4 separate regions of the Homo sapiens genome follow, and all the other regions are linked to region 2. The links come from fine-mapping of genetic effects on gene expression. A gene starts in region 2. Each other region holds a variant in brackets. All regions are shown on one strand. Distances are between the middles of the regions.

Region 1 (5,899 bases), 110 kb before region 2:
TCTTTAAACCCTTGTGTTGGCATTGCATTCCTGTGTCATCACATCCAGATCCTGGGCAGGCATGAAACACCTCCAGCTACTCCCAGCTGCACCATCCCACAGCCTCTTGGGAGTCCATGGGAGCTGTGCCCATTCCCTGGCCATCCCTCAGACCCACCTTCCACTTGGTTCCCTGTCATGCCTTTGCTCAGCTCAGTCCTACTAGAAATAGTCTGCCCTTGCTGACACCCAGGATGAATTCTAACCTAGGACCTGGCAAAGCTGTCTTGGGTCAGGGCACACATATAACACAGAGCATATACCCCCTAGTAGCATCTAAAGGACAACATACATACATTTTAACTTTTCACATTAAACAAAGATACTATGGGAATTCCCTGAAAATACAGACATATGTATTAAGGGAATCACCAATAACCCAAACACCCAGTGTTCATATTTTAGTATATTTCCTCCCAATCTTTCACAACGTTTTTTTTTAAATGGTTATCAGTTTGCTTTTGTTATTTTACATTATGTTGCACACATTTCCCCAAGTCATTAACTACCCCCACGCTGTGATGTCCTGTGAGTGCCCGAAGTTTGACCGTGCAGCCACGCCACTCATGGACTTAACCCCTCGCATCACTGCGGGACATTCAGCAGCTTCCTATTTTGTACGGTTGCGTTGTCTTACACGCACATGCATCTGTCCCCCCAACTGGACCCTAGCGTTCTTGTGGGCCATGTCCTTCTCTCACACTTCCTCGCACCCCTCAGGATGGTGAAGAGCTGACACAGAGAAGACTCTGGTGAGTGTTGGCGGCTGACCTGAGCAACCAACCCCCAACATTGGAGCATCATCACGGCTGACCTCTGAGAGCTGAACTGCACAGGAGAATTTAACTACACCAGGAGCACTTAGTCATTCCTTCCCCTGGGTAACAGGAGGCAGGGCCCAGCCATGCAATGAACTGCCAAATGCCTCAGGTATCTGCTTGATCTCTTGGGTCTCCTAAGCTGCTTCTCTCCCAGCCTCCCTCTCTCATTCATCGCTCGTGTTGGCTACCTCCTGGTTCTTCTCAATGGTCTTCTCTTTCTCCTCCTACTTTACATTTTCTGATCTATACTTTTTAGCATAAAAATCTGATTTTTTTATGACTTCATATTGAATTTTTTAAAAGTCTGATATTTTCTCATTATTCCTCTAATCTCCACTGGAGACTCACTTTATGCACAAGATTCCTGAGTCTTTGGCTTGGCATAGGAGGTCCTACACAGTCTGCCCTGCCCTCAGGCTGTGGCCAAGAGCCCTTCCTTCTACTGCTAAAGATGAAGCTCTGCCCAGCATCGGGAGGTGTGCGGCTGTTGCCCCAGCCTGGACGCCCTCCTGTCTCTGCGTGGTGATGTGTCATCATGGAGGCTTTTGCTCTCCACTCCTTCATCTAACTCAGGCCTCACTGGCTCTCTTATCTCACTGCAGGCTTCTCCTTCATGGCACCTGTCCCAGCTGTGGGGGACACACTTATCTAGTTACCTGCATGCTGTGTGTCTCCTGCTCTGGAAGGCTCCAGGAGGAAAGAGACATTCTTTTTGTTTTCTTCAGTCCCAACCCTCTAATCCTTGGTGCCTGCACGTTCCACGATTCCATGCTTGGGGACGGAAGGATGTGGGGATGTGGGGAAGTGAGGAAGGGAATTGGTTTCTGACCATGGCCTGGAACAGCTACTACAACGGAGGGGTCTGGCCTCTGAACCAAAGCCTAGGCGCCATCTTTCCTGGAGCAGGAGCTGTATTTTTCTACAAGCTTCTGTTTTCTCTTCTTACCTGAGCTTTGGGTGACTTGTGGCCATCTGCTCAGAGTGACAATAGCAGTCTGCATTGTGTTTATCTTGCTCTCAGTTTCTTTATTTAGCAAGGCCACTGTCTTCTTACTGAGTCCCATCTGCACCTAAGTGAGTGCACACTATAGAATCCGGCCCTGTTGATGGAAAAATGCAGCCCACCATTCGGCACTTACTAGCCTGGCAATCACACGAGCATCCACCACATTCCCGGCACGGAGCTGGGTGTGGTGCCCTTCCCAACTCCTAGGACCTGACCCACCCAACACCTGAGGCCAGATACTTCACCCCTAGCGGCTGCTCATTCAACCCAAGATCCAACTAGCAAACTGTCCAAGGAAAACAGAGCTTCAAACCTTCCAGCTGCAGAAAGTCACCAAATCTTACAGCAAGCATCCTGGGTCACAAGGAGACAAACCCTTCCCAGCCAACGGACCGGGTCCCCATGACCCAGAGCCAGGGCAGGGAGGGCTTAGGAATTTAGAGGCTTTGCCTCAGAGGAGAGTCAACTGGTACTGTCTTCCCTTCCAACTGTCTCTCCAGCGTTCATCACCACTCTGGAAATAGTCATCTTTCATAACCCCTTCAGAAGAGTAAACAGTGTCTCCCTCTGGGTAAACCAGAAAGCCACAAAGCCTCCCCTGAGCAGGATGACAAGGAAGGGGGATGCTCCTCTGCTTCTGCCCTCAAGGACAGCTGCCTTTTCTGCAAACAGCTGGGTGATGGGGTGCTTCCCACTGGGGCCAACTGGCCGCGGGGCACTTCTCCCTGCTCTTCGTTCCTCCCTGCCAAAGCCTGCAGAACCCTCGAGGAAGCCTGCCCTAGCCACCAAGCAGCTCAGCACTGAGCTGGGGCTTCGGACTGGGCAGTCAGAGCCCCAAACACCTTTCTGTCTCCTACCTGTCTTTCTTCCTCCCCACTTCCTGGGGACCTAAGAGGCAGCCTCTCTCTCCCTATCCCACCTACCCGAGGACTCTTCGGCCAAATTGACTCCTACCACCAAATCCCAATGCCAACCCCGAGGCAAGCCCTGTGGCCCCTGGAGTTTCTGGAACCCTCTCTAGAATGTGGTTCAACCATAGGGCATCCCCTGCAGGC[C/T]CTGAATTATTATAGTACCAAAATATACCTTCCTTCCTCCTCCACCTCCTCACAGCCTAGTTTGCAGTTAGGCTAACCGTCACAGCTGGCATGAGCTGTTTTCATCAGATTAAAATGCATGGCCCTTCTTCCCACACACTATTGTATTTCTGTTTGGTGAAGAATATTGAATACTCAACCACCCAAGTGCTTTAAATATCACTGAATCTCAGGAGGTGGAAGAGCAGAGTGGAGAAGATGAATTATTTGAACTACTCAGAAATAAGCCTAACATGAAAGCAGGAAATTCATATGAAGTGGGCAGTGCCTCAAGCAACCTGATATCTTCAGGAAAGATAAGGTGGTGGCTTATTGCTCCCATCGCTCTCTGATCACAGACCTGGGACAGAGCACCTCTTCCAGGGCTCTTGATTCCTGTGATACACGAAGGCAGATGATCACGGTCGCCTTCATCCCCTCTTGGGGGCTAAGTACATTCACAGTCCCTTGGTTCTTGGTCTTTGTGTCCTTTGAAGCACATAAAAGTCTGGTGGATGAGTAGGACCATGGTTGATAGAAAATTATTTCCCAGTACTGCACAGCATAGTGACTCAGCATGCATGCACACACACACCCCAAATTTTCATGAAACGATACTTAACCCTTATTGTGTGTGATGCACTTAATTCTATTTTTTTCTTTAAAAATGCTGGGCAGGACCCACCCGATGGATTCTATAACCCTTAACCCAAGCCCTAATGTGTCATAAACTACAGTTTTAAAAGCTGCTCTAAAGTAGGGTTGGAAAACTATGACCCTCGGGCCAAATCCTGCTGAAGGCTGCTGTTTTTGTACAATGCACTGCCTGATTTTATTCAGCTCGTCCCTAAGAATGGACATTTTTAAATGGTTCAAGACAACCAAAAGATGAATAATATCTCTTGTGTGAAGTTTATGTGAAATTGAAATTTTAGTGTCGACAAATGCGGCTTTTGTGGAATGCGGTCACACTCATTCACCTCCAGATTGTCCATGGCTGCTGTTGCAGTAGCAGGGAGTAGTAGGTGGGGCAGAGACCGTATGGCCTGCACAGCCCAGAATATTCATGTTCTGGCCCTTTGCAGAAAACTTGGCCCATGCCTGCTCTGAAGCTTTGACAGCTGCAGGCTGGATTAACTGATCCATTCGTCAAACTGGTTGTCAGAGCCAGCATGTTTTAGTTATCCTTCAGTTTCTAACAGAAAAATCAGCATTATTACTTAAAAAATGCAAATGGTGATTTTTATTATGAGAGCAGATTCCTCAAGGGAGACGGAGTTATTTTCACATCAGAGAGAGAAAACAAATGGAATTTCTTGGTGGTAATGGGGAGCTGGTCTCACTGCCCTTCTCACTCCCATTCTGAGGTCAATCATCTTGTATCTTCAAAGGGCACTTGAATTTTTAATCATCTTCTCTTATTGACGCATTTAATTTGTGGTGAAAGAGAAAGATTTTTTTCTTAAAAAAAAAAATCCCTTTTGAATTTACTAACTTATAATGGTGAGCCTGCATTTCCTCCAGGAGAAGCAAGGCCAGGCCGATTTGAACAAATTCCACTTAAAATTCAAGAAACCCATGTGAGATGAAAAGTACCCTCAGAATGGCCACAAACAAAGACCTCATAAAAGGCTAATGCCGTTTGTATAGAATTACAGGAAAGAAAGTGAGAGCTAGAGAGGCCCTCGCAGTTAAAGCCCCCAGCTTTTGTGAGGCTCAGGCAGGATGGAAAAAAAATCTCCCTATTAGCATTCTAGCCGGATGGCCCTTTGTCCAGTGTAATCGGAGTGCGGTGGAAAATGCCAGGCAATTTAGCCTCTTAGGGTGGAAAACGAAGGGGCGAAGGAAAAGGGTTGGGGAAAAATAATCTGATGTTATCAGCTAGTGCTGGCAGAAAGACAAGTCTTGAGATTTTATGGGGTGGGGGTGGCTGAGCTGGGCAATGAACACAAATCCTGGGGGTTGCCCTGAGCGTGCCAGGCAGCGGGGAACGTTCAGCCCACAAGTACTGGACGGTCAGGACTAATGAGCAGTCATCCAGGCTCAGTCAACAGCCCTCTCTGTGGCTTCCCGCCCACCCCTCCCACTGCTCTGGAAACCTCTCTCCCCTCGACCTTTCCTGGCTTTCGCCTAAGAACACGTCACTGGCCACTTCAAAGATTCTGTAACCCATCTCCTCCCCCAGCCACACTGTACCACAGGGTGGGCCCTATGGAGCCATATTTCTGCTATTTGGTATCAAAACTGTCCCCGAGGAGACTTGCTACTTCATTCAGGACTGAGCCAGGAAACCCAGGTTTCTAATGCATTCTCATCAAATGTACATGACCCCCAGGTGAGCAGGAGGATGGGCAGCAGGGCCAAGGCCTGAGCTGCTGCAGTCATGGGGACCACCTCGAGGCAGATGGAGTTCCCATCTAGGCCACACCAAACAGGAGAGCAGGGAGGGATGCTCTGGGTGGATGACTGTCCACCACCCGACTGGTAAGGCTGCTCCGTTTCTGAAATGGGCGTCAAGGCGAAAGCACTCCATGGCCTCCCCTCCCCAGGCAGGGCTGCTGGAGTGCTGAGAGGTGGCAGAGGCCATGGCAAAACCAGGCCCACCAGGACCACAGATAAGGAAGGGAGGAACAGGGCAGGTTGTGGAAGGAGATGTGAGAGTGCCTCTTGTCCTGCTGCTCTGACAGTGAAAACCACGTACACGGACATGTACAGACACACAGACACTCACAAACATACACACACAGACATGCACACACACACACACACACAGCCATAGACACTTACAAGCATGCACACACAGACATGCACAGACACACACACACACAGCCACAAACACAAGCACATACAGACATGCACAGACACACTCACACACAGACACAGCCACAGAAGCTCACCGGCATGCATGCACAGACACACACAGACACATATTGACCCATTCACATACACGGCCACATACA
Region 2 (5,899 bases):
TCCTCAGTCTGTCAGACATACACAGTGATTTAAATAGTCATTGTTCTTAATTTTTCTTTGCTGCTAAACCAACAAAGAAATATTGCCCTCCGTGAAGGGAAAACAGTCACAGAAACACCTTTAGAAAGCAGGGGGTAGGAGGTGGGTGGGATCAAGGTGAACCCAGCTAGAAGGACCTTCCCCATTACCTTGCAGGGCAGCAGGGGCAGCTCAGTCAGACAGTTCCCACAGGACAGAGCATTTCTGGCCAGGTTGGTACAAGATTAAAACAATGATTATGATGATGTAAGAGTTTATCTTACACATCCATGAGCTACAACTGTTAACCAATGCACACGGGGGGAGGAGGTTACATGCACATTGACTATTTAAAACTGTCCAATTTCATACATTTCGACAAAGCATTTAAAACTCTGCCAGAACAGCCCAGAATGGGTAGCGGGTGGGGTGGAGGAGAGTCTGTATTTACTTTAAAATGTGAATTAATTAGTTTAGACACAAGGAGCAAAACTACAAATGTCTTGATATCTCTTATATGTTAAGAATAAAATTACAGCTGTCTAGGGGCATTGAGTGTCCACCATTGCCCACTCTGTGTTTAGGCCTTCACACTTGTCTCACAACTCCCTTCTGCTACATTTCACACCACGCAATACCTCTGCAAGGGAGCTTTAGCTACAGGACTCAGAGGACAAGGTGCATGTTTCAGCTAAAGCACACCCCCGTTCTCAGTGCCTCAGCCCAAAGCAGCTGCTGTGTAAGAGCGGTGACGGCCGGGGAACACCCAAATGACATATTCTCCGCGTCCTTCCTATACTGTAGTGATGTTTACTGAAGTGCTGAGAAAACATGGGAGGAGACACTGGGGTAGCAAAGCCTAAAGTCAGATATCTTTGGGGAGGACTAAGCATCGGCTGCGGGTTGGGGATTTGCAGGAGTCTTTGCTTCTCTGGCTCTCCAGTTCTTTAGTAGGCTTTACCTGTGTCAAAATCAAGTGCGAGATGGAAGACTATTGCTTTGTGGGAGACCCAGGGACAACTAGCCGGGCAGAACAGGGCTGTGGTCCCGACTCCCCCAGCAGACCTTGAACGACGCCAGTCCGACTCCTCCAGAGGGGGCTGGTGACAGGTCAGCTGCCTCGCCCCGAGGGTGGGGGAAGGGCGCGCTTTCCATCCGCGTACTGGGACAGGAGTTTGGGTGCAAACTAGTAAAGGCTATGGTGCTCCCTTTACACCCAAGTAAAGGCATGTGGTTTGGGGGACGGAAGGAGATTAAGCCAATGCGGAATGCCCTACACACACTCTAGCACCACCACTTTGGGGACTTCGGTTCTCCCGCTGGCTCGGGCTTGGACCTCGGTCTGCAGGGAGAGGGTTGGAGGGACTGGGCGGCTGCGGCCCTTACCTTGCTGACCACGTTCTGGACGAGGCCGGCGCGGATGCCGTAGTCCCATGCGCGGCAGTCACAGTTGGAGGCGTTGTCCCCCTTGTCCGGAGGGGATGGCAGGGGTGGTGTGTCGCCTCCGTCCGCGCCGCTGCTGTTGCTCCGGTTGCCCGCAGCCTCCCAGGGGGCAGTGGCGAAGGGGGTGGTGGGGAGGCTGGTCCAGTTGCCCATGTCCCCGCCCCGGCCTGTGGTGGTGACCCCTGCCAGCTCGGTGCCTTTGCCGGCCCCGCGGCACCAGAAGTTGGGCTGGTCCAGGAGGAACGAGTCCGAGAACTGGCTGAAGCCGATGAACAGCGCCGGGATCCAGGTGAGCAGCACGAGGGTCTTCTGATAGCCCCCGCCCAGGCCCCCGAGGAAGGGCAGCACCGACCCGTCATAGTCCAGCAACAAGAGGCTCGGGGCCGCAGCCGCGGAGCAGCAGCTCGGGTGCGGGCCGCCTCCAGGATGCAGTGGGGGCAGCGGCTGGATCTCCGCGCCGCCGCCGGGGCCCGCGCGTCCCCCGAGGGGCGCCGAGGCCGCCGCGTCCCCGGGCGGCAGGGAGCCGTTCTCCTCGGCCGGGGCCGGCTGCCGCCCAGGCCCGCCGCCCGCCGCCTCGCGCCGCCGGTCTATGGCCATGGCCCGGGCCCGCGGCTCCCGCAGAGGCGCATAGAGCGCGGCGGAGGCTCCGCGGGCGCCCCGGGCACAGCGCGCCGGGCCAGGCGCCTGCAGCCGCTGCCGCCGAGGAGGGCCCGCGGCTCGAGAGAGAGCGCTCGGCGGCTCCGGGTGCGTCAGGCCGCCCCCATGTCACCCGCCGGACCCCGCGCCCCGGGCGCTGCGGCCCCGCTCGGGCGCCGGGCAGAGGCGGGCAGAGGCCGGCCGGGCCCTCAGCCGCCGCGGCTCATCAGTTCCGCGGCCCGGGCGCCGGCTGCCGAGCCCGCCGCTCTCCGCTGCTCCGCGCCGGACGCGGCAGGAGGAGGAGCCGGCGCCGCGCCCGGCCCGCGCCCTTGCCGGCGGTTCAGGGCCCTGCGGGCGGCGGTGCGGGCAAAGGCTGCTGCTCCCGGGGTGGCCGCGCTGTATTTCTCCGACTTCGGGCGCCTCCCGGAAGCCGCGAGCTCTGGACCCAGCCTGCCGAGCCGGCCGCGCTCTCCAGCTCCTGGAGCCGGCCCCACTCCTCCTCCTCCTCCTCCTCCTCCCCCTCCTCCCTGCCCCCCGGCCCGCCCCCTCTCCCCCCGCCGAGGTGGAGGTAACCGCGGCACCTGCTGCGCTCGGCTCCTGCTCGCGAGCGCCCCCTCCAGCCCGGACGCGCGGCCGCCGCCGCCCGGGATCCACGGGAGGGGGGCGGGGGAAACGGGACACCCCGGGCCCGCCTGGCTGGAGGATCCCCTGCCCGTTGCCCGTTTCGCGCCGGGCGGGGCGGGGGAGGAGGAGACGCGCGTAGCAGGGGTCGCCGGCCGGCGACGGGTCCCGGCAAAGTCGGCGTGCGCTGAGAACGTGTGGGCCGGGTCTTCTCTGAGGCTGGGCTCCCGCAGCCGCGCGGGCCCCCCACCCACTCCGCGCGCGCCAGGTCTCCGTGACCTCTGTCTCTTCAGAGGTGCCCGGCGGTCCCGCTGCCCGCGCCCCGCTCCCAGTCCCAAGCCCGAGGGTCTTCAGCCTTCGGGAACAACCCTCTGCGCTTTTTCCAGGAGCGAATAAGGTTGATTTTTGTGTCCGTGGAGCAGGGTCAAGGAGGCGCCTTTGCCAATTTCAGGTCGCCAGTCCCCCGCAGTGTCTGGCCACCTGCGACCCGCCGCACCCACTCCCAAATCGCCATTTCTTCCCCCACTCCTAAGTGCATGCGATGTAAGCACGATGCTGGGATATATCTCCAACACAAGTTATAATACACACAGTATAAACGTGATGGCATTCCCCACCCCCTCCCTAAGATCTTGTATTCACGTTTGGAACGCCGTGTGCACAGGCGCACACATCTATACTCTCACACAAGAAGACAAACCTCTCCCTCCTCTCCTGCTCCAGCGCCAACCTTGCCCAGCCAGCGCTGTATAAATAACACCAGCCCTGCGGCAAACGGCTACATTAGCATATTTCCTCCTGCACCCAGCGCACGCACCAAAGAGAATTATCCGGCACCTTTCAACCCAGCGTCCCCACATTTTGGAGGCATTTCATATTCTGAGAAGTTTATTAATGGAAGTCTTAAATGGAGCAATCCATTTCTAGTCTTATTTGGGGCAAAAAAAAAAAAAATGTTTAGCTTTCCAAAAGGATATATTCTAAGCTCCATATACTGAATGTATTCTTTTGCATTTTCATTATTTGCTCAGCTAACCGCTGCACAATTTAGTGGAATACATTTTTAACCTGCAGTTCAGTGTTAAGGGCAACATGTGTTTACTGCATAAAATGCTGGCACATACGTACCAGAGAACTATTTCTGAAGGCTGCCGGGGGGCGGGTCTTGGGGGACAGGGGAGGTTGTGGACCTTCCTGCGTGGCCGAGAAGGGGTGATTAGATAACAATGGGCGGAAGGGGCCCTAAGGGCTGCAAAAGACACCAGACCGCTGAGAAATGGGTCTGGAAACCACATATATAAAGAGCTGGGGGCTTGGGGCGGGGGGGGACACGATAGTGCACGTTGTGTACGTGGTAATTTTTCAACTTCACATTATTTATTAGCTTAACTTTTCTTTTCCTTCCCTCTCCTCCCCTCATTTGAAGAGCTAATACATGCAAAGTTCTGACCTCCATGCCTGGAACAGAGTAAGTGCGCAATGAATGTTAGACATGTATTATTACCAGTGCTCCTCTTGCCATTACATACAATCCACATTTCTTTTTGAATTGAAATATAACTTTACGGATTTTATTTATTTTCCTTTCAGTGGCTGATTTTCCAGAAGAGGTCCACTTTGTGTCTGGCTCTGCCTCCCTTCCCCCACAGTCACAAGGACCCATTTGTTTTCTTGTAACTGATCACAAAAGGAGCATTGCCATTGACCTTAATGGCCCTTCCAATCAGAATAACTATCATAGCCAGCGTTTCAGAGTTGGCTTTCAAATTCACACTCTCACTCAGTCCTCACATTCAGCGCCCCAAGAAGTGGGCTTTCAAAGAGAAACAGCAAGGATCAGGTGACTGACTACCAGATCAAAGAGTTGGTCCCCAGCTGAGCCAAATATCTGGTTTTGAACCCAGATTTTCTGACTGGACATTACCGGATTTCTCCATTTCATCATACAGGGGCAACTATAGGGAAGAGTTTACAAAGATGTTTGTTAATGTGCATTTTTACGTGGGAGAAGCCCTGGCCCTAGGAAAAGAGTTTCATTGTGAAGATGTTATTAGTCTTTGTTCGCAAAAGGTGGTAAAAATCCTCAAATGGTACATTCTTAGAATTTAGGGACACACTGGAAAATGGTATCCTCTAAAACTGAAGCTAAAAGGAGGCAACATAAAATGTTTGAAATTAACTAGCTGCAGCACTGACCCAGGCATTGTAATTAAGCTGTTGATTAGATTAGAGGTTTCCCTAAATTCCTCCTGGATTGATATTTCCACCAAATCTAGTCAAGAAGATTAAAGTGTAACTACTTTAAAATAAAGTGGCCTTCAATTTATTAAAACATACCACAAGTGATCTCATAACGTGAGCAAAAGGAGTAAAGAGGAAGAATTTGACACTCTGACAGCCTCAGTGGGTGAGGTTTGAGATCCATGGACCAGGATAGGAAAGCCAGACACCTGTTAAAAAATTACTGTTTTTAATTTTCTGAATGAGCATTATCATCAGCTGCTATTTTTCTTGTTTGCTTAGTTAGATTTACGTTCTGCCTCTAGAATGTAAGCACCTTCGGGGATAGGTGCCTTGTGCTCAGCTGTATGCTTGGTGGTTAAAACAGTGCCTGGTACATGCAAGGCACTCAATACATCTTTGTCAAATAAATGAGTGTATCAAGTTATTAATCACTTGATGATACTGTCTATTCAAATCATCAAACTGTTTACTTTGTTTCTTAAATCATCAAGCAACCTTTTTGTGTTTGTTCATCTCTCAAAGATGGTGCTCAGATCAGCCAACATGAGACTTGAAATGAATTTGACAATTATATGTCTTGTTGTAAGGCATTGTGGTTACTGGATTAGCTCCCAATATTATCTTCTCTTGGGCAGTATTGGCTTGCAGATGGTGGCTTATAGGCCAAATGCAGCTCACAGACCATAGGCAATGTTTTCAGGAAAATAATTGCTAACATTTCAAAATTGGGAGATTGAATACTTAGAAAAAAATGTGTTTTGGGCTTCTCTGAACATCATAGCAGAAGCCATTGTCCTTTTGATGCCCCATGTTTGCAGGACCGTGCTTTCTTGGACTGCAGTAAATGAGCAGGCACTCTCCAGCTTGCCCTCATCCCTGCCTGACACATGCCCCTCATGCATGACATTTGGCCCCCAAAAGTAGCTGTGTTTGTGAC
Region 3 (5,899 bases), 96 kb before region 2:
TGCCACCCATTGCATTTCCATGTCAGCGCCATGTCAGGTGCGCTGTGCCGATGTCTAATCAAGTCTCAGTCATTCAGGATGAAGAGAGAATAGGGAATTCAAAATACATAACTGCAAAAATGAAAGCTCCTTTATTAATTTAGTGCAATACAGAGACGTCCCAGAACAACACGGGCTGCATCCAGAATCACAGATCATTTCAACTAAGAAAAAGATGGGCACCGAGAAGGAGAGCGAGGAACATGCCAGCTGAGACTCATTTCATTCTAGGACAGTACTAGAATGAGCATCTCACTGGGAATTCACCGCCCTCAGGCAGATAACAGATGCTGCTAAGCTATGCTAGCTGGTGTTGCCACGTTTATTCTTCATCACTGAGTGGTTCTCCTTAGGTCACACATATAACTATCCATCTGAGTGCAAGTTTAAAACAAAACAAAAACTGAAGAGGACATACAGATGGCCAAGAAGCACATGGAAAGATGCTCAACGTCACTGTCATCGGGGAAATGTACATCACAGCGACAATGTGGTAGCCCTTCACATCCATCAGGATGGTAGCTGCTGTCAAACAAACAGGAAATAACAAGTGCTGACAAGAATGTGGGGAAACTGGAACCCTGGTGCACCAGTACATTCCTGGTGGGAATGTACAACGGTGCAGCCAACTGGAGAAAACAATATCCCTGTTCTTCATAGAATTAAACAGAGGATTACCATCTGACTCAGCAATGCCACTTTTGGGTATAACCCCCCAAAAGTGAAAGCAAGGACCTGAAATGATATTTGCACACCTATGTTCACGGCAGCATATTCACAACAGCCAAAAGGTGGGAGCAACGCAGGTGTCCATCAACAGATGAATGGATAAGAAAATGTGATCCATCCAGAGGATGAAATATAACTCAGCCTTAAAAAGGGAGGCCATATCCAACATATGCTATAGTATAAAGGAAGCATTTTTTCTTTTTTTCTTATTTTCACTTATTTTTGTCCTTAGAGGTCCTTGTTCTGAGGGAATCCTGAAGACATTATGCTAAGTGAAGTAAGCCAGTCACAAAAGGACAAATATTGCATGATCCACTTAAATAGGTTCTTAGGTAGGCAAATTCATAGAAACAGAAAGTAGAAGGGTGGCTGCTCGGGACTAAGGGATGGGAATGGGGAGTGTTTATTGGGGACAGAGTTTGTTTGGGAAGATGAAAAGACCTCTAGAGATGAAGGGTGGTGATGGCTGTGTAAAAATGTGAATTACTTAATGCCACTGAATGGTACAATTAAAAGTAGTTAAAATGGTAATTTTTATGCTATGTTTATTTTACCATGATAAAACAAACACCCCCCTCCAAATAAAACAACAACAAAAAAGGCAAGTCCGTAGTATTGGCCTTTGAGAGCTCTGACCTCAGCTGTGCCCCGCCCACCCATCCACCCAAGGATCCTTAAACTCAGGAGGATCAGAAAGGCTCAATCACCAGGAGGTGAGGTGAGTCACAGAGCTCACTGCATTGCCATTCTTGGGGGCATTTGTCTCATCTGCCTTAAAATACAGAACTGCATTCTCATAGTCGGGTTTCAGGCAACGGCTCAACCGTGGAGGGAGGTCACTTTGGGGCCTTTGCACACATCCGAGTCAACCTCAACAGTCTTAGTCCACACATCTCTGTATTTCCGGTCACTTATTGCTATGCTGACTGCTCATCTAAGCCCCAGATACTGTCCCAGTTATTTAGGAGACAAAGAGGCCCTCAAGCTGGCCTGAGCCCCCAAGGGGTCCTCAGTGATGTCGACACGACAGGTGTGCAGGCACCCCCATGCAGACGGGCCCCTCTGATGGAGACCTGCGTTCGGCCAGGCAGGCCCACAGCTGGCGTGGTCATCCAGGGCGGGAACGGGATTGGACGAAGCCTTCCCTCGGGCAAAGATGCTGGGGTGGGGAACAGGTGCAGCAGGAACAGAAGGTCAGAGCGTGGTACTGGGGTGACGAGAGGCGCTAGCGAACATCAGCAGCTGCGGGGAGCTCGAGGCAGCAGGGATGTCCAGGCCACAGAAGGTGTCCCACATTTTATATTCCTGTTGTTTGTATATTTTCTATTTCTACCCACCCCCCCCATTTTATGCCTGACCCCAAGTTAAACTGCTTAAGGACTTAAGACCCCAACCAGCTGTGACTTAGATCAGGGTTTCTCCCCCAAAGGAGCCTGCAGCAGTGTCACACAGAACACACCCCCTCAACTGTCTTTCTACTGAAAAAAAAGAGAGGGAAACGTGCTTCAATAAGAGGGACACAGGGACCCCCAAGCCCTGCCCTTTAGAGAAGCTTAAAGACTCCTACATCATTCTTTTTTTTTTTTTTTTTAAGGAATTGGGTCCCTTCCATCTGTGGCCATGACCGTTCATCCCACAGCCTGTCCTCCTCTCTTGAGAGCTGTCCTGGCTCAGGCTGTGGCTGGATTCTCAAGCAGCATCATGTGGCCAGGTTAGGAGCAGGATGTCACAGAGAGAGGGGTCCAAAGTTCAGCTGCTGGGAAAGGCCACAAAGACTGGGGTCCCAGGAGAACGGCGACCTGCCTATCAGTTCTATCTCTAAAACTCTGGGGTTCGACTCTCCAGACTTAGCTTCTGTTCCCAGCTTTACAGAGGACAAGGGGCTGGGCCCATGAGTCTCTCTGCATCAGCAACACCTCACTCTCAGTTGAATTCAGACTCGAAAGCCCAGTCTCAACACAGCAAGCCCCATGGGATCCAAGAAATACTGCTCCATGCGTCTGTTACCCAGTTGTCTTTTTGCTGAATCACATTGTGGGGGCAAGAAGAAACATGAGGCCATCTCAACAGATCGCAAAGGCCTCCACGGCTGGGACACCTGTCAAG[C/T]GGGAAACACGTGCCGGTTCTCACGCTACGACCTAGGGAGATGAAGACATGGTCCCTACCCCGAGGGATTTACAATCAGGCATGGAAAATACTCCAAATCCAACACCACACTGCCACATGCTGATGGTCATGCCAGAGTGCACACAAGGACTGTAGAAACATGGAGGAAACCTATCAGATCATTCTATACACCTTCCCTTCAGATTCATGTGCTTGTCAGCAAATTAAAGGCTCTGTGAGGTCCTCTAGGGAAAAATAAATTTTTTTTTTAAGCAAACTTTAAAAAAATTAGCGGCCAGGTGTGGTGGCTCACGCCTGTAATCCTAGGACTTTGAGAGGCCGAGGTGGGTGGATTGCCTGAGCTCAGGAGTTCGAGACCAGCCTGGGCAACATGGTGAAACCCCGTCTCTACTAAAATACAAAAAATTAGCTGGGCGTGGTAGCATGCGCCTGTAGTCCCAGCTACTCGGGAGCTGAGGCTGGAGAATCGCTTGAATCCGGGAGGCAGAAGTTGCAGTGAGCCGAGATCACACCACTGCACTCCAGGCTGGGCGACAGAGCGAGATTCCGTCTCACAAAAAAAAAAAATAAAATAAAAAATAAAAAATAAAAATTAGCATGCATTTTCATCAGGGATTGAAACACCCACCAAGGATACTGTTTCCTGAACCAAACAGTTGTTAACCAGGCAAAGGCCATGACCTTTCTGAGATCTCTTCATGGCCCTGGGCTCCATGGGATTGAGATTAATGAGCACAGCAAAGCCCCCCATCCCATCTCCTTAGCAAGGTAACAAAGGAATGGAACTCTGGGGCCAGGCAGAACCCCCAAGATGCCATCTACAAATCTGGCCTCTCCGTCTCTCCACTACACAGAGTGAGGATGGGAGAACCAGAGCCCAGCTCTCTCCATGGAGAAAGGCTGCAGGTCCCAGAAGCAGGTAGACCTCCAGGACCCAGGAGAGGAAGCATGAATGAAATGCAGACATTAAGGACCATCGAATAAAGATTTTGAGGGCAAGGGGAATGGGGTGGTGGGACAGGGGAATGTCCTGTGCCAGCTTTTGCCATGACCACCTCTTTGTTTCCATGTGCGCGTGAATGAAATATTAAATAGGCTTGGCCAATTAACAACCTTTAAACTCTGGACTGCTCAGAGCCCAAGGAAGAGAGTTTTGATCTGCATTCCCACTTGACCTGCTCAGCACTCGGTGGGACATCCCGCAGCCCACTGCCTGCAACTTCTGATGAGCATCAGAAATGGGCTCTCCGCTCAGCTGGGACATGAGGCATAGCACACTCAGGCAGGGGCATGTTTTTTGTGACTTATATCTTTGCCATTTTAAATTAACACAAAATACAAAAGCAGTTGGGTCTCCCCTCTACCAAAGTCAGTTTTCTTTTCCTGCAGCCCTGGCTGGCCCATCCTCACCAGGCGCAGCAGCAATGGGTGAGCTCCGGCAGCACAGCACATGTGTCACAGCAGGATTGAATGGTCAGCAATTGTCTGTAGGGCTCTGTCCCAGGGGCCAGGCCACCGCCAGAACAGGACCTAAGACAGGGCCCAGGCTTCCTCCTCGGGGGACTGTGACACCCCAGGACACAGGCTGAGGAGAGGCTGTGAGGGAGAAGGGGAGGGGATGGAAAAGAATGAGCAGGAATATGAGTCATGGTTTTGTCCCCGCCCATGGCCTGCTGCTCACCTTGATGTGACAGGCTGCTGCCTGCGGCTGGCCCTGGGCCCAGTGTGGGCACCTGGCAGTCACGCCCAAACTAGGATGTGGCACCTTCAGCACTAAGGTGCCTGCTTGCAATTCTCCAGAGGACAATGCCACCCCAAAAAGGGAAAAGCACAGCGTTCCAGCCTGGTCCTTCCTGGCTTCAACCGCTGCCACGTTCTGGAGAGAAAAAGGGGTATTTTTCTGGGGTGGTGGTGGGAGCTGCCTCCTTGGCCTCTGCTCAGCCATCTACTACATGGTTACTCCAGTGCCCCTGCCCCCATCCTGGTCCTCTCTTGGGCACTAGCTCTACATTCCAAAAGGAGACAGGACATGGGGCAGAGCCAGGGACTGGCTGACCCTCACAGGCATGAGTTTCCTCTGGGCATGGCAAAGGCATGAAGGACATTCGGGTGTAGTTGGGTGGGCCCCAAACGGTACTGACTTTATCTGACCTGGCCCATGGGCCCACACAACAGAAGGCTCTGGCATGGTCTGACATTTGTGCATCTCACCCAATAGAGCTTTTGCCTTCCCTCTCTCCTGGGGCACTTTCACGAACCTCTTTGGGATGAGTCAAAGGTAATAGAAAGCTCATTATCTGCACACAAATATGCAATATTGTATTGCTTGGAAATGAACACTAACTGTCCTTATGGTGCCACCAAACACTTGTACGGGGTTTCATGGCTTCTAAAACCTCTCCATGCAGGTGAGTGCATTCGATTTTCACGGCAACTAGGTAAGATGTAATAGGCACAATTCCCATGTTACACTTCAAGGAACCAACATCAGCTCTCTACAGTAAATTACTCAAAGTTACAGAGCTAAGAAGGTCTCAACTGTAGGACCTGAACCTTGGTTTTCTGACTCTAGGACAAAGATTTTTTATATTTGTTCCCTCCTTAAAAAAAAATTCATTCCCTTCTTTAAAAAAAAGTGAGGTCACACCATGTGATGAGGTCACACCTGGCCCAGATGCCCTGCTCACACCATGTGATGAGGTCACACAGGAGGCATCTAAATTCAACACAGAGGTGAGGGAGGGCATTGGGAAGTGATCCTATTGCTGTGTTTCCAGGGTCAGCGAGAGGTCTCACGCGTGCAGGGCACAGCTGGAGGGAGCAGTTCGCTCCCAGCTGAGGCAGCCACACAGGAGCAGGAGGCACCTGACAGGAGAAGCGCAGCATGGAGAGTGGCAGGAGATGAGCTACTGTTGTCCACCATCCGGGACGTGCAGGTTAAGACTTGGAATCTGGCCTGGGGACAGTCAGAGCAGCTGAGTGGACATGAAGCTGAAGAGTGAGG
Region 4 (4,932 bases), 120 kb before region 2:
TTTACTTTGCACTGCGGACTGGCCCCGAACTCTTTCTTGGGTGAGATCCAGGAATCCTCTCTTGGGGTCTGGATCAGGGCCCCTTTCCTGTAACAATAATGGCTGAGGAACATCTGAGCCTCCTTATGTAAACATATGAAATTAAAAATGTGTCCATGAGAATACAGCTTCCCTCCTCTCCTCTCCCCACAGGGGAGGTGCTTCCTAGCCCAGAGAGCGCTCCCACAAAAGCGGTATTATCCAGGAGGGATGGCCTGGAGAAGGGAATGGTAAGGGCAGGGGCTTTGAAATTGGTTGGCATTTCCATTTTCCAAGTACCAGCTATACGAATGACATTGAGCAAGAGGCTTAACATGCTTATGACTCTCTTATGAATGGCAAGAGGTACTATCTGGAAGAAATGTTTGTCAGAGTCAAAGAAAGTGATGATATAAGGTAAAACGCCCGCCGGTCACATTCTCTCTAGGGCCTTCAAACAGCACGTTAGTATAATAATTCAGGGACACATTTAAACAGCCCTGTGGGCTGGCCTGGGGACCCATACGTAACCGCAGCAGAGTCTATGACAAATTGCCCCTTTAGTTCCAGGTAACCATGAGATAAATGAACTTTTGTAAAAGTTGATAATTCTTGCAAAAGTTGGGAACATCTTGCATAAGAACGGCAACTTGGAAAGTGACTCGATTTCTAACCACAGTATGAGGAGCTTTGTAACCGATCCTTTGTGTAAAGGCCAAAAACGATTTTCAAGGTCCCATGTGAAAAAGCAGGAGACAATTGCCGTAGCAAATTTATAAAGTGACAGAGTGCGGCCCTTATGGAAAACAGATGGGGCTACTGGGAAAAGGGCAGCCGCATGACGTGCTAGAGACATGAGAACCGAGAGACTGTCCTTAGGTACTTGTGGGTTTTGATGGGATCTGTCTGGAAAGGATACATTTACCATTTGGGAAAACAGAAACCAGGGCAATATGAGTTTACAGGAATGATATTTAAAGGACTCATGTCTTCAAGCTTATGCTCCTTCTTTCAGGATCAGGTTGAATGAGGAGGGGCCGGTCTCTCATGTTACACATAACCTTTGGCATTCCCATCACCAATGCCTGCTATGGCACCTTCCCCTCCCTTCACAGGGTTGAAGGTGGCCTGCTGTGAAGTCAGGGGTCACATGGCTCCTGTGAGCTCCTGGCTCTGAAGGACACACATTCGGAACATACAGCATTTAATATAGAGAAACAATCCTCACACAGAGGTTGCTGAGAGGCTGGCCCGAGTCACAGATGACCTCAGAAGCTGTTTTGAGATTCATTGGAAAGAGGGTTTCTCAGAAAGCCCTCCCTCCGATCAAGCTGAGAGGAAAAATGTTAAATATGAAGGATTGAAATGCTAAAAAAAAGTTATGCCATTGAAGCATACTTTTTGTTGTAGTTGTTTCAAAAGATTTTGTTCCAAAAGCCTAACTTTTATACAGTGCAAGAGGCTGTTTCAAGGTGAGGTTTAGAGGACACACCTGAAACTTTTTAGAATGGCAGATGTCAGACCTCACTAGAAAACTCTGAGGTGGATGGGTTTTGTTCTCTCTCTCTCTCTTCTTCCAACTCCTTGGGTCCAGAACATGAAAACCCAGAAAAAAATCACAGTATTACTCTACTTAGGATGTGACTCTGTAGTCACTGGTTAATCACTGCTCTGGTGTTAGATGACATTCAAATGTAAATGCTGTGATTACCAAACCATCTCAGACTTCTGGGGTAAGTGTTCAGCCAGCACTTCTGATTCACGCTGGGCTGCCTTTGACAGAGTTGGCAGAAAAGAAAAGAAGCAAAAGAGAAGAAACCACACGCACAATTCATTGGTCATCTGTTGTGACCGAAGCTTCCCTGTCAAGCGAGGGGGGTGGGGGCGGGGGAGCGCAGGAAACTGAACACAAGCTGGGAATAAAATTTCAGACTGGGGCCATCCTTTCCACACCTGTAAATCCTTTAAAAGAAAAGTTAATGGATTTTAAAAAAAATCATACAACTTAAGTCTTCTTGTACTTCTTTCATTTCCTAAACAAATCCTAGGGCCCAAGTGATTATCTATATTTCGATTCATGGATAGAGGAAGACATCTGTTCAGTAGCATTAAGAAGAAAATCTTTCTTCTTAATGAAAGATTAATGAAGCTTTAATTAAGATTTCTTCTTAATGAAAGCTGCTAGTTTAGGTTCAGCAGCTCCTAAACTAGCATTTTGTTCCTCTAGGTACATACTATGGGTTTAAATTTTAGGTGTGTCTGCGTGAAAATGAAAACTTATTCTCAGTTACCGTTTTGTTTCAAGATGGAAGCCTCAATTTGAAATCCAGCCCAATGTGGTTTGCTGTTTTAAGGCCATGTGTCTCCTTAACATAACTCTTTTTCAAAAAGTCATTGGGTGGCCAACAAATTGAGATAAAACAAAATTTAAAGGAATACCTTACTTCATTTAGGCAACCGAATACTAAAATTTGAAATTCAGAATGAAGTACAGCCCCAGAAACTATGGAAGTGAGGCCACTAGGGTTCACGGCTCACCTCCTTTGAAACACACACACCTCTTTCTCTCTCCCAGTCTGCAGAGGTCCCTGAAAACAGTGCTTCTCAAAGGTGGGGCCTCCTTGACCCACAGCATCAGAGTCCCCCGGGGCCCTGAGCCCAGATTCCCAGAAACAGATGCTTTCCAGATGGAGCCCAGGAAGCCAGTAGATGGGGGGTCCAGGAGATTCAAACCTTGAGGAGCTTTTGCCGTCAAATGTCAGCAAAATTGCTGGGATTTCTCATCTGCCTGAAACTGCCATCGTACAAATAACACCTTCAC[A/G]TTAGTGCTGGGGATGAAAACCTTTTCCTCCACCCTCCTAGGGTCAGTGCTTGGGGCCTGTGAATTAAACTGACAAAAGACAGGCTGGCAAGAGGAAAGACAAAGTTTAATCACATATGTATACCGGCAGGAGAGTGCAAAAAATGGCTCAGAGAAGAGGTTGGAATTTGGGGCTTTATATACCATCCTAATGCAGGGAAGGGGTTAGGATTTCAAGAGACAAGAAATAGTGGGAAATGACAGAGAAATACACGGGGGAAATAATATAAGAGAAGGTTTGTTTTAGTAAGGTGTGTTTATGCAATTTCTCATCCTGCATCAACTTCTCATCTTCACCTCTGCTGGGAGAAATCTCCCTTAAAGGGGGATTTATGACAGTTGAATTCTTCGGGAAAGCTCTGTTTCTAGGTAGATGGGGGAGTTCCGACAAAGCTGCGTCCTGCATCTGCTGGTTCTCAAATGCTGTCAGCTCACAACAGTCCTTATGGCCAGTGGCATATTCTGGACCACTTCAGCAGCAAACAGAGACACTGCATTTCCACATCTATTCCCAACCACACTCTTGCCTCGTAAACAAGTGCTAATCCCATTTAACAGGGAGGCCCCAAGAGGTTAGTTACCAAATAGGCCTTAGGTCATATGGTTTATAGTATCTAGGACTTGAATTCAGATCTTTGGATTTTAAACACCAGATTTATCCTTTAAGAACGAAGGAAACATCTCCAGCCCCTGCAAATACACACACACACGCACACACACACACACATCCTCATCATTTAGACATAATGTCCTCGTTTTAGACATCTTTTTTTCAATAAGACTAGCACAATTTATCACCATGACCATTAATGAGACCAGCTCTTAACAAGCTAAGCTTATCAATGAGGGCTCTCTCCCATGTTTGTCGAGACGTAATTAAATACTCAGCAGCCGGCCAAATGTCGAAAGACCCTAGGTCGCTCTTGAATTGCCCATCTATCTGCTTCTGAACATAATGACGTTGACTGATGACCTTGGGGAGCTGGCTGTATTTAAGAGAAGAGCCAATCACTGTCAAACATTGGTGCCGAACAGAGAGCAGCCCTTAAATACATACACACAAGAAGCAATGAAAAAATGTTTCATTTGGGAAAGAAGACAGAAGGCACAGGATGGCAGAAGAAGGAACTTACATTCTATAAATATTGAGAATATTTTCTCAAGTAAATTTTAGATTCGATTCGCTTATTCCTAAGTTAGAAAATATTTTAAGAGGATTTTTGCTAAGGGGAATGGTACACGAATTAGAATCTACTGTCCAGTCTCTGACAGCACTGGGGAATGCCTTGGTTTCTGTGGCTTTTTCTTCCAGAACTGCATTGTCCAATACAGTGGTCACATATGGCTATTTAAACTTAAATTAATTAAAATTAGGTACAAGTAAACCTTCAGTTCTTCAGTTGCACTGGCCACACTTCAAGTGTTCTATTGGACAGCACTGATCTAGAATCTGATGTTAACATGTCAAAATGAAAACACCTTCCTAGCATTCTCAATGACATGTAAGTAAGAAGGAGGGGAAAACCAAACAAATTTTTTAAAAAAGTAGTATTTCACATATATGGAAAAAGCATAAGAAATAATAGAGAATACCCAAAACAGCTTGGCCAAATCTCTACATGTGCCATATTCTCCTCCCCTCTTTCCTTCCCCTTTTCTAGCAGAAGCTCTACTGGATCCCTTTGATGAGTCTAAAGGGCTGTATTGAAAAGTTCAAAGGACACAAGCGGTAGTGTCTGACACGACCATGTGGTTAAGAACCTGGGCTCTGGGGCCAAACAGCCTGGGTTCTAAATTTTCTGGGAAACTAAAAGCCATTCTATAATGTTTGGGATTTCATTGAAGGTTAAAATGAAACTAATTTGTACACATAGAGTGATGTATAAAGATCCTTTTTCTGGAGGTAGAAGTGAACAGCGTGTCTTGAAAGAACCAATTCCAAACTTTAAGCATATTGAAATAAGTAAGCGTTAGGCAATCACGAACTCCTTCAGTATCACATTTTGGTCCTTATAATTTCAGAAGCAAGCTTCTTGCAAACTATCCACCTGCTG

Which allele goes with the higher level. Positions count from the first base shown, and alleles are read on the strand shown. Sizes are in standard deviations (SD) of each study's normalised expression. Not every link is listed here.
For the expression in monocytes after LPS of the gene that starts at base 2,549 in region 2, allele A in region 4 goes with a higher level than allele G (moderate effect, 0.66 SD a copy in Fairfax 2014).

Evidence for each region. PIP is the estimated chance that this variant, and not a neighbour inherited with it, causes the effect.
Region 1: its variant is the best candidate, but not a certain one, in a credible set for the expression of SLC22A23 in blood mononuclear cells (TOPMed, PIP 0.66).
Region 3: its variant is the best candidate, but not a certain one, in a credible set for the expression of SLC22A23 in lung (TOPMed, PIP 0.54).
Region 4: its variant is the best candidate, but not a certain one, in a credible set for the expression of SLC22A23 in monocytes after LPS (Fairfax 2014, PIP 0.85).

The regions. Positions count from the first base shown.
Region 1 is chr6:3,346,581-3,352,479 of GRCh38, forward strand. All of the region lies in intron 3 of SLC22A23 (solute carrier family 22 member 23), which reads right to left. Among named protein-coding and RNA genes, the nearest start is that of PSMG4, 91 kb to the left of the region's middle. RefSeq lists an enhancer at 2,583-5,443. The variant C/T (reference allele first, on the strand shown) is at 2,922.
Region 2 is chr6:3,454,502-3,460,400 of GRCh38, forward strand. It overlaps SLC22A23 (solute carrier family 22 member 23), which reads right to left and starts at 2,549. Exons shown (of 10, transcript NM_015482.2): 1 at 1,405-2,549. The coding sequence starts at 2,058. It overlaps LOC643327 (a long non-coding RNA gene), which reads left to right and starts at 1,202. Exons shown (of 2, transcript NR_147844.1): 1 at 1,202-1,750. RefSeq lists silencers at 2,317-2,546, 2,607-2,826.
Region 3 is chr6:3,358,955-3,364,853 of GRCh38, forward strand. The region is part of intron 3 of SLC22A23 (solute carrier family 22 member 23); the gene reads right to left. Among named protein-coding and RNA genes, the nearest start is that of SLC22A23, 95 kb to the right of the region's middle. RefSeq lists enhancers at 5,310-5,810, 5,811-5,899. The variant C/T (reference allele first, on the strand shown) is at 2,875.
Region 4 is chr6:3,339,885-3,344,816 of GRCh38, forward strand. The region is part of intron 3 of SLC22A23 (solute carrier family 22 member 23); the gene reads right to left. Among named protein-coding and RNA genes, the nearest start is that of PSMG4, 83 kb to the left of the region's middle. RefSeq lists an enhancer at 1,304-2,027. The variant A/G (reference allele first, on the strand shown) is at 2,840.